Homo sapiens: one gene and its partners. The protein of the gene in region 2 interacts with the protein of the main gene of each other region in a pairwise test. Each region holds a gene or a part of one and is shown on either strand. Other genes may lie near its edges. The genes, in order: TXNRD2, CFAP418 and FRG1.

Region 1 (3,564 bases), on a different chromosome or scaffold from region 2:
GGCTCCATGGTTCTCCCTCAGAGCCTGGGATGGCCATGCCCTCCAGGCCTCTGGAGGGGTGCAGGAGTGATGAACAGCCTGTGCGGCAGCCCCTCTGCAGCACAGCCAGCCCTGCCCGGCGGGCCAGACTCCCACACACGCCATCTAGAGCCAGCTGGCACACCCGCACAGGTGTCAGAGGATGTTAGCAGTGACTGTTTTTCTCCTCTTGAAACCAGAAGCTGTGGCCAGCTTCACTGCTGGTCCGTGCAAGTCCCCATTGTCCTGGGAACAGGGCCCCCATCTGTAGCTGGACTTGGGGCGCACAGGCCTCCTGGGCCGGGAGGGAGAAGCAGGACTCTCTCTGTCCCTGATCTGGACCTGAGCCTGCTGTGCCTACATTTCTAGGCGGGAGCAGAGTCTCCTACCTACCCTCCTGGCTCCTGGATGGCAGAGGGGCATGTTGGCCACATGTGGAGGGGTGGGCCAGGAGCAGGGGCCATCTTGTTGGACCAGGGCACAGCTCCTGGGGGAAGGCACGCTTCTCTGCCATTGGTTTTAGTGAAGACTAAGTTTTTTGTTTTTGTTTTTTAAAGAAATGTGTAGATGTACCAGGATTTGGTTGTTTTTCTTTTTTTTCTTTCTTTTTTTTTGGTTTGAGACAGAGTCTCACTCTGTCACCCAGGCTGGAGTGCAGTGGCACAATCTCGGCTCACTGCAAGCTCCACCTCCCGGGTTCACGCCATTCTCCTGCCTCAGCCTCCCAGTTAGCTGGAACTACAGGTACCTGCCACCACGCCTGGCTAATTTTTTGTGTTTTTTAGTAGAGACAGTGTTTCACCGTGTTAGCCAGGATGATCTCTATCTCCTGACCTCGTGATCCGCCCGCCTCAGCTTCTCAAAGTGCTGGGATCACAGGTGTGAGCCATCGCACCCGGCCTTGCTTATTTTTTCTTTTAGAGATAGAGTCTCACTCTGTCGCCCAGGCTGGAGTGCAGTGGTGTGATCACAGTTCATTGCAGCCTCAAACTCCTGGGCTTGAGGGATTCTCCCACTTCAGCCTCCCAAAAGGTTGGGATTACAGGTGTGACCGTATCTGGCTGATGAAGACTTAGTTAATTAGCATCTAGAGAGGAGCCCACAGGCTGAGTGAATCCTGACCATAGGGCCCAGGGTTGAGGACTTGGAGCCAGGACAGGGGCTAGACACTCCACAGAGAGCAAGAGGACGTAGAGCAGGGGGCAGGGTGTCTCACCCCGTCTTCCGCACAGACCCCTCTCCGCCCTTCATTGAGGCCTTCGAGAGCAGGGCAGGGCCAGAGCCTCTCTCCCACGGCCACCTGGTCTTCATGGCCTGTCTTCTTGTGCTTTGCAGCAAATGTCCTCCATGGTCATAGAGCACATGGCATCTCATGGCACCCGGTTCCTGAGGGGCTGTGCCCCCTCGCGGGTCAGGAGGCTCCCTGATGGCCAGCTGCAGGTCACCTGGGAGGACAGCACCACCGGCAAGGAGGACACGGGCACCTTTGACACCGTCCTGTGGGCCATAGGTAAGGGCACGTCGAGCCACACGCTCTGTCTCTGGTCTCCCCGAGGTGCATGGAGAATCTTTGCCCCACTTCCTGTCACCTCCCAGGGCTCCCCCATCCTGCTGGCTGCCAGGCGGGTTGGCCGCTCCCCAGTGCACCTCGAGAGCAACCGTGAAGGCCTGTGGGGCGGCACTCACACTAGGCTGTGCCCATCTTGCCATCCCCAGCACCTTGCATCTCTGCGTGTCTCCCCACCACCGTGGGACATGCTGGAAAAAACCAGAGAAGAGACTGAGACGGCATCAGCCAGGTGTCCTCATCGAGGATCAACTAGGCAATCATCCTCGCCTTCCCTGGCCCTTGAGCAATTGCTTATTAAGGTTTCAGCACATAAATCCTACTTGTCACCTTCCAGGTTTAAGTCTTGGTATGTTTCTTTTCTTTTTTTTTTTTTTTTTGAGATGGAGTCTCGCTCTGTCGCCCAGGCTGGAGTGCAGTGGCAACCTCCGCCTCCCGGGTTCAAGCGATTCTCCTGCCTCAGCCTCCTGGGTAGCTGGGGCTACAGGCGCCCACCACTACACCTGACTAATTTTTGTATTTTTAGTAGAGACGGGGTTTCACCATGTAGGCCAGGATGGTCTCAATCTCCTGACCTTGTGATCCACCTGCCTTGGCCTCCCAAAGTACTGAGATTACAGGTGTGAGCCACCGCACCTGGCCAGTATGTATTTTTTCTTTAGCATATTAAATGTTTTGCTGCTTCAGGCTTTCCAGCTAGGTTTTTTTCTTTTTTTGCGTGTGAAACAGGGTCTCTCTCTGTTGCCTAGGAGGAGTGTGGTGGTGTGATCATAGCTCACTGCAGCCTCCACCTCCCAGGCTCAATCAATCTTCCCATCTCAGCCTTCTAAGTGCTGGGATTACAGGTTTGAGCTACTGTGCCCAGCCAAGCTAGTTTGTTGTTTTTAACATAAAAATGATATGGATTTGAAAGTTTTAAAAATTATGGTGACATACACATAACATCAAATTCATCATCTTAAGCATTTTAAAGTATATAGTTCAGTGGTGTTAAGTACGTTCATATTGTACAAGCAGCATGACCATCCATCTCTAGAACTTTTCCATTATCTCCAAACTGAGCTCTGTCCCCATTAAACACTCACTCCCTGCTGCCCGGGCACTCACCCTTCACTGTGTGTCTCTATGGATCTGACTCCTCGAGGGACTTCATGTAAGTAGAATCATGCAGTGTTTGTCCTTTTGTGACTGGCTCATTTCTCTTAGCACAATGTTTTCAGGGTGCATCCATGTTGCAGCATTTGTTAGAGTTAGCATTTGTGTAGCATGTGCCAGCATTTCCTTCCTGTTGAAGGCTGAGTTGTATGTGTGTCCATTATCTGTCAGTGGACACTTAGGTTGCTTCCGTCTTTTGGCTGTTGTGGATCATGCTGCTGTGAACATGGGTGTGCACAAGCCGCCTGTTTTCAGCACATAAAAATGACACAGAGTTTTTAAAGTTCTGTCCAGCCTTCTCGTGGCTTTCAGTGTTTCCCAGTGGGTCCCTTTGGGCCTGGCAGGTCATCACATGCCAGGAGTGGCATTTTGCAGGCCTTTCCAGAAGTCACATTTCGAAGGCTTCCAAAGACATCACCCTTCCAGTGCTGGGCAGAGGCCTGGGCGTTTCCCGGCCAGGCGTGGGCTGGCTACAACTTGCTGGGCACAGTCTGGTCTCACCTTCTTGCTCTCTGTCAGGTGTAGGTCCGGTTTTGCATGGGGCAGTGGCCGAGCAGGTGTGGGGAGTGTGGACACAGCCAGGGGATACCTGTGCCCAGGCCTGGGCCGGGGCTGTCTGACGGGACTGGCAAGGGGCAGCTGGAGCCAACAGGGATCGCCCAGACACTGCTCTGTCCCAGGCCTGCTGCAGAGGAGGCCATTGCAGATGGGCCGCCGCAAGGAGGGCTGCGGGTCCTCGTCAGGGTGGGTGGCGGCACACACAGCATGCCTGCTCAGATGTCCTACCCACCTCGGTGCCTGGCCGTCTAGTTTAGGCTCCTAGT
Region 2 (3,653 bases):
CAAAATAGGAAATATAAACTACTTGGTACTTTTTTCAGAGTGAAGTTCTTTAGCAACATACCTGAAAAACAGATAATCACACGATTTGTCCCACATATAGTCATCATAGCTGACTACCAAGAAATCACAGGCTATACAACGCAGATGGTCACATGCTCTGTTCAGAGAAAAAAAATTGTATATTAAAGATTATTGGTATCTTTAAATACCAATGAAAACATGGTGATTTATTTATAGGATACACCACATATTACAGATTACTGAATAAACAACAGAAAAGTACAGATTAATCTGATTATAAATCTTTATACTAAAGCATTATTTACGGTCTAAACCTTAAGGTTAAATTTTTGCACAAACCTACCTATTTTACTATGATCTTGTACACTGAACTTACACATATATTATATAGATATGAAAGAAAATAGATTTGTAGATCTTTTAATTCCATGGTTTTCAAATTACGTCTGAGGGAGATCGTCATATAAGCTAACTTCTTTAAATGCTCCCCTTCCTACTGAAATTTTCAGGAATATCTCTACCGAAGAATATGTCACATGACATTGAAATGAATCTGTTTTTCAGATAAGCTGCTTAAGCGCTGGGAAAAGATTGTATTTGTTTGCTTCCTCACAACTTGGCATAATGCATTCATTCACTCAAAAAATATTTATTGAGAGTCTGGTATGTGCTAATGAGATTCTGTCTTCATAGAGCTTTGATTGCAGTGAGAGAAGAAACAAACAATGCTCATGATAACTAGACTATATACTAACCTGGAGGGATATCTGAAGCAAGGTGCACACTAACATATATAGCATGATCCTATTTTTGTAAAAACGACCCCCACAAAAAATTCCTATATAGGTGGCTAGAAGTTTATAAGAACATGGAGCAAAATGGCCGGGCGCGGTGGCTCACGCCTGTAATCCCAGCCCTTTGGGAGGCTGAGGCGGGCGGATCACGAGGTCAGGAGATCGAGACCATCCTGGCTAACACAGTGAAACCCCATCTCTACTAAAAATACAAAAAAATTAGCTGGGCATGGTGGCGGGCGCCTGTAGTCCCAGCTACTCAGGAGGCTGAGGCAGGAGAATGGCGTGAACCCGGGAGGCGGAGATTGCAGTGAGGGGAGATCGCGCCACTGCACTCCAGCCTGGGCGACAAAGCGAGACTCTGTCTCAAAAAAAAAAGAACATGGAGCAAAATGTAGAAAGTTATATACTACACAGTAACCCTGGTTGCATCAGGAGTGGTTGAAGGGAAGGAAGGGAGATTATTATCTTTTTCTTTATACATGTTTCAATTTTGTTTTTATTCTTTCATTAAGCACATAATACTTCTGTAATGAAAAAATAAACTCATCATTAGATTTTTTTCATTTATTTCCCTTCAAAGTTCAGATACGCTAATTTCAAAATGCAAATACTTTTGGCCTGAAAATTTCTTTGAGAATAAATGCTTTGTATTTCTAAAAATACTATTAACCATAATAATAATGAAACATTTAAAACCTATACAAGTTTCATAGGCAAGTCCATATTTTCTTTCAAACTGTTAGCAATTTATGAAGTTGCATTTCTACATTTGGAAATTCAACAACTACATTTGTACACATTTGAACTCAGACTTCGAATGTACAAGTCAGGAAATGCAAATTGATAGTTCCCAAAGCTACTATGACCTGCTTTCTTATGCATATATAGTTTATTACATGATTGCACAGAGTGTTAACTTTAATGCCTTAATACATATGTGCAATTTGGCTGAATTATTGCTGTTGTGGGAACTATAATTTAGAATTTCCTGACATTTTGTATGTGTAAAATCTCAACCATAATGCTAAATACAGCTTTTTAATTTAATTTAAAATTTAGTAGTTTATTCAAATCTATTCACACCACCACATTTTCCTACAAACACTGTCCTTTGAGAAACATAAAACTAACTTGCAGCTAAGAAATCATTCCACTGCTACGATTTACTCTATTAGATCATAATTAGTACCAGTCTATGGAATAATCCAGTCTTGCAAGTTGTTTAAAAAATAATTGAGAGTAAAATTCGATTGGCTTGAAAATGCCTTCGTTTTATCTGTAGTACTTATTACTGCCACCATGCTTCCTACTACTATTCTCTCCCCTTTTCCACCAACAAGTGAAAGACAAATCTTTTTCTAAAATCTAAAGTCATTCAGCATTACCTCAAGCCAGAGCTGTATCTAGAAATCAAACAACGCAAATAGGCAGGATAGATTCAATTTCCTTTATGCCCTGGCCATGTAAATCAGTACTCTTTTCAGGGCTGAAATATATTTCTCTTTCATAACTATGTACATAAAAGCATATCTAATATAAAGTCATGACTCCAGTGAAAGACAAACTGTCAGGTCTTTCCCTCTAAAATGTAGAGGGAATCACACATAAGATGTCACCAAGAGCTTTGTTCTTTTGTCCAGCTAAAAAGTAGAATTCACTATTTTAAAGATGTTTACGACAGGAATGCCCCAAATCCAACCCAATACAATCTTCTGCCCAGACACTGTGGTTCTCTGTTAAATCCTATCAGATCTGCACAATGGGACTAAAGAAACTTGATGTCTGGATAGTTTGAAGATAACAGCAGTTCCAACAGCAACATCAGCTAAGATTCTTCCCATATTACATGGCTTTCTGCTAAGTGGTATAATAGAAAGCATAATGGATTAGGAATCAAGTAACCAATCTGGATCCTTGCTTTGCAATAACTGATATGACCTTGAGCAAGGCACCTTATTTGGGAGTCATTCTTAACAACTTTCTTTCTTACCCTCCTTAGTCAATCACTGAATTCTGTCAATTCTATATTCTAAATATTTCAAATTTGACCTTTTCCCTATAGCCATTGCTACCACGCAGGTCACAGCTCCCATCTTCTCTTTCCTGGACCACTCTAACTACTGCCCATTGACTAGTCTTCCTGTGTCCTTTCCTGTCTTGCCCCTCCAACTCCCAAGCCATTTTCTGCACAGCAGCCAACATGACTTTTTTAAGAAACACAAATCTGGCCCATTGAACACAGGACAAACTTTTTCCAAAATCCTCAAAAGGATTACAGGACCCTAAGCCAAATGTCCCTCCACTCTCTCTCCAGCCCAGTCAGTGGCCATTCTTTCCCTACTCATTATGCTCCAGCATGGCCAGATACTCTCTGTTCCTTCCACCAGAGGAACACCCCCAGCTCCTCCCCTTCTCAGGGAGCTTCTAAACATGCGTGTGCTCTGGCTCCAATGGTCACCTCTCTTTGTCTAACTCCTACTCATTTTTCATATTGTGGTTTGATTATCTGCTCAGAGAAGTATTCCCTGACCCTTCATATTAGTTAGAGTGTCCATTATCTATGCTTATAGTATCCCATATGTTCCCTTTATGTCACATATCAAATGGAAAATAAATACTTATTTGTGGAATAATCTATTTAAAGCCCATCTCCTCATCTAGACTGAAAGCTCATTGAAGACAGGAAGTGTCCATTTATTTGTTCATCAAAATTTGTTCATTTAATCCTTAGGACCTATCAGGTGGTTAATATGTGTTTGATGAATTTAACACAAGTACCTCAATCTCTTCATTTATAAAATGGAGGTAAAAATTCTTGATCAGCATCTTGGGTTT
Region 3 (3,653 bases), on a different chromosome or scaffold from region 2:
ATATAAAAATAAAGAACAAAACAGGTGATGACAGAAAGACATACCACGTTAAGAAATGTACGTTTATGTACTCATGGGTAAAATGACATAACATCTGTGATTTTACTTAAAATTTTCTAAGAAAAAATGTGTGTGGGGGCATGTGTGTAAATGAAATGAGATTGGCAAAATATTGATAATTAATGCTGGGGCCTGGGCACATGGGGGACTCATTATATTCTTCTATGTATGGAATAGTTTGGATATTTCCATAATAAAAAGGTTTTAAAGATTCAGTTAATTCCACTGCACAAAATTTTCTATTCAACTAAACATTTCATGCTTTCCATAATAAATTTTAAAATACATAAAATTTTAGCTAAAATGAAGTTGGACCCTTATCTAATGCCAAATACAAAAAGTAACTTAAAACAGACCAAAGACCTAAATGTAAGAGCTAAAGTTAGAAAACTTTTAGAAGAAAATGGGAAAAGCTTCACGACATGAATTTGGCAATGATTTCTTATGTAGAACATCAAAGGCACAGGCAACAAAAGAAAACGTGGACAAACTGGACTTCATCAGAATTAAAAACTTTTGTGCATCAAGAACCGCCATCAACAGAGTAAAAGGCAACCCAGGGAATGGAGAAAATATTTGTAAACTACATACATTATAAGGAATTAATATCCAGACTATATAGAGAACTCCAAAAAGACAAATACCACAATTCAAAACTGGGCAAAGGATATACACGGACATTGCTCCAAAGATGATATACAAATGGCCAATAAGCACTTGAAAAGACGCTCAACATCACTAGTCACTAGGGAAATATAAATCAAAACCATAATGCAATACCACTTCACACCCATTAGAATAGCTATTATCAAAACAAACAAACAAACAAAAAACAGAAACCAAGAAAGCCAGAAAAACAAATGTTGGGCAGGATGTGGAGAAACGGAAACCCTGTGCAATGCTGGTGGGAAGGTAAAATGGTGCATGTATTTAAATGCCACTGAAGCATACACGTAAAAATAGAAAAACTGGCAAATTCTATATTCTGTATATTTTACCTCCACACACACACAAAACCAATGGAGAAAAAGAAAATTAATCAAAATTAAAATTTCAGCTAAAGACAATTAAAAAGAAATAAAACTAATAAGCAATTTAGATGATTGAATTATAGCTACAATTGTTTTCAGGAAAAGAAATAATGCTTTATTCAGAATCATTATCAACAGTGTTATGATTAGCAAGTCTTTCTTATAAATATAATAGTTAATGATTTTAAATTAGATTTATTTTGTATGTTCTATGCCACATTGACCAAGTACACTTAATATTAAATAAAATCATTTAAATATAATAACTCATTAATGTTTTGCAAATGAAGAAGAAATTTCTGGCAGACAAGCTCCTTAAAATTTTCACACTCTGTCCAAGTAGGGAAATGATACAATAACGTTACTTTAATATTGTCAACTGAAAAAGAAATTACTTTGAGCAGATGCCAGTATTTTTTCTCAATGCAATTTCAAAGAATAAGAAATATAAACACAGTATCATCAAGAATTAAATGTGAGCATTCTGCCTACTTTCTGCAAGTGGCCTACATTCAACCTTTGGAGGTATGCTTATATGTTTATCGACTAAAGTAACATAACATAATACTTAATGGTGCCACTCTGGGGTTTTAGCTGTGAGAAAGCAGTGGATCCTATGAACACGGGCACTGAAGTTGCCTGTCTCTACGTCAGGTGACAGCTCAAGCTGTGTATATGGTGCAGATGCCCAAGCTGAATTTAAGAGAATCCGCTCTAAAACATTACTTGCTATTTAGACACATGCTTAAAGTTATTTCCTTTTAAACCTTAGGCAGATGGTGAAATATTCCTGCTGTGTTGTCTCACAATGCATGAGAAAGCTTTACACATATTGTCACATAGTTTAGAATGTTTACATATGTCTGGCATGCCTGTAATCCAGCACTTTGAGAGGTGGAAGCAGGAGAATCACTTTAGCCCAGGAGTTCAAAATCAGCCTAGGCAACAAAAGGAGACCCCCATCTCTACAAAAAAATTAAGAAATTAGCTGGGTGTGGTGGTACGAGCCTGTGGTCCCAGCTACTCGGGAGTCGGAGGTGAGAGGATTGCTTGAGCCTACGAGGTCGAGGGTGCACTGAGCCACGATCATGTCACTGCACTCCAGCCTGAGCAACAAAGCAAGAGCCTGTCTCAAAAAAAACAAAACAAAAAAATGGCCCAATGCACCAGTGTCATGGCTGATAAGATAGTACCAGGGCACCCTCATTCTAGCATCAAGGCTGTGTGACAGCTCACCTCACCTTCTGACTAACCCAGTGCTTCCGTGCTAAGGGCCCCCTTAAATCTCTACTATCATTATGTGCTTGGCACAAAGGAATGATATATCTTAGATTTGGAAATGGAATTTTCTTCCCCAATCTTACTGTAGTCTAAGTACCCTTCACAGACCTTCTATTAATCCACAGCTGACTTAGCTTTAGTTCCTGGGTAAATAAAATATATGTGTTTTGCAAAGTACGATGTTGTAAGTCCAACTGCTTCTGAATCTAGCAGAGCTCAGTGAAACTCTTTGCCTACAGACATGCTCGTTTTTATTAATGTCACACTTGGTTTTCTCCATGTGAAAGACAGAATTTCTTTCATCCTATTTACCAATCCCTTCAGATCCTTGTGAGGAACCAACAGAACAGCTTTAAAAAATTAAAAGGTTTTTTTTCTTTCCCTTCACAAATAGGCACATGCTTACTTATACGGCAAGTTTAGAAAATCCACAATGCAAAACCATGTGGAAGGACAAAGAGAAAAAGACGCAGAAGGACTTCCTCTTCCAGCCAAGATGGACTTGCCCTCCCACCATGACCAACGAGAAAACTGAAACTGGATAGAATATTTGAGAAAACTGTTTTCAGAGATTGGAACACAGGCAGAACAGGACTGTGATATTTGAGAACAGGAAAACACTGGAGGCAAATCTCATACACACTTGTGTTTTCTGCCCAATGGCAGTTTCTTGACCACACGGAGAGAGGTAGAGACCTCCAGAAATGAGGCAATGTCACTGTCACTAAGCTGAGAGTCTTACAGTGCTAACATGTTGGGAGTTTATAGAATAAGGTACTGGAGAAGAGGGAACTACATACAGGTGAGGCCTCAAAAGAGTACGCAAAAGTTCTCTGCAGGTCTGTGGCCAAGGGCTGGGGGGAGTGCATGCAGCAGGCAGGCTCCACAAGGCCTCTGCAGAGTGGCTGGCACTTCTGAGGGCTGACTGGAGATGCCAGAGATCACACAAATTTGGGACACAGCAGAGTGGAGAGAACTCACTAAGTATACCTAGAACATGTGGCTGAGGCCCATGAGGATGAACCTTTCCTAGACTAAGAGTCACTGTCTAAGTCTACGAGCAAAACCCTAATAAATAAGCACAAACTAACAAAGGCCCAGGCTTGACAGGAGCAAAAGGGTGGTCAAATAATTTGACTAGGCATCAAGACATTTAACAGAAATAAGGTTAAAATGTTATGAAAATGAAAGACTGAATTTATAAGGAAGACTTAACAATCCTAAATGTGTACACATGACGGCTTCAAAATACTTTAAGCAAAAACTGCTCAAGTAGACAGA

The links.
Region 1: the proteins of CFAP418 (region 2) and TXNRD2 interact in a two-hybrid assay, tested with the Homo sapiens proteins (one study listed by IntAct).
Region 3: the proteins of CFAP418 (region 2) and FRG1 interact in a two-hybrid assay, tested with the Homo sapiens proteins (one study listed by IntAct).

Annotation. Positions count from the first base shown.
Region 1 is NC_000022.11:19,893,371-19,896,934, reverse strand, and holds the end of TXNRD2 (thioredoxin reductase 2, mitochondrial isoform 5 precursor), read left to right. Parts: intron 1-1,353; coding exon 1,354-1,528; intron 1,529-1,734; coding exon 1,735-1,802; 3' UTR 1,803-3,027; downstream 3,028-3,564. UniProt on the Homo sapiens protein: Involved in the control of reactive oxygen species levels and the regulation of mitochondrial redox homeostasis. Maintains thioredoxin in a reduced state. May play a role in redox-regulated cell signaling.
Region 2 is NC_000008.11:95,252,127-95,255,779, forward strand, and holds part of CFAP418 (cilia- and flagella-associated protein 418), read right to left. Parts: intron 158-3,653; coding exon 62-157; intron 1-61. UniProt on the Homo sapiens protein: May be involved in photoreceptor outer segment disk morphogenesis.
Region 3 is NC_000004.12:189,947,280-189,950,932, reverse strand, and holds part of FRG1 (protein FRG1), read right to left. Parts: intron 1-3,653. UniProt on the Homo sapiens protein: Binds to mRNA in a sequence-independent manner. May play a role in regulation of pre-mRNA splicing or in the assembly of rRNA into ribosomal subunits. May be involved in mRNA transport.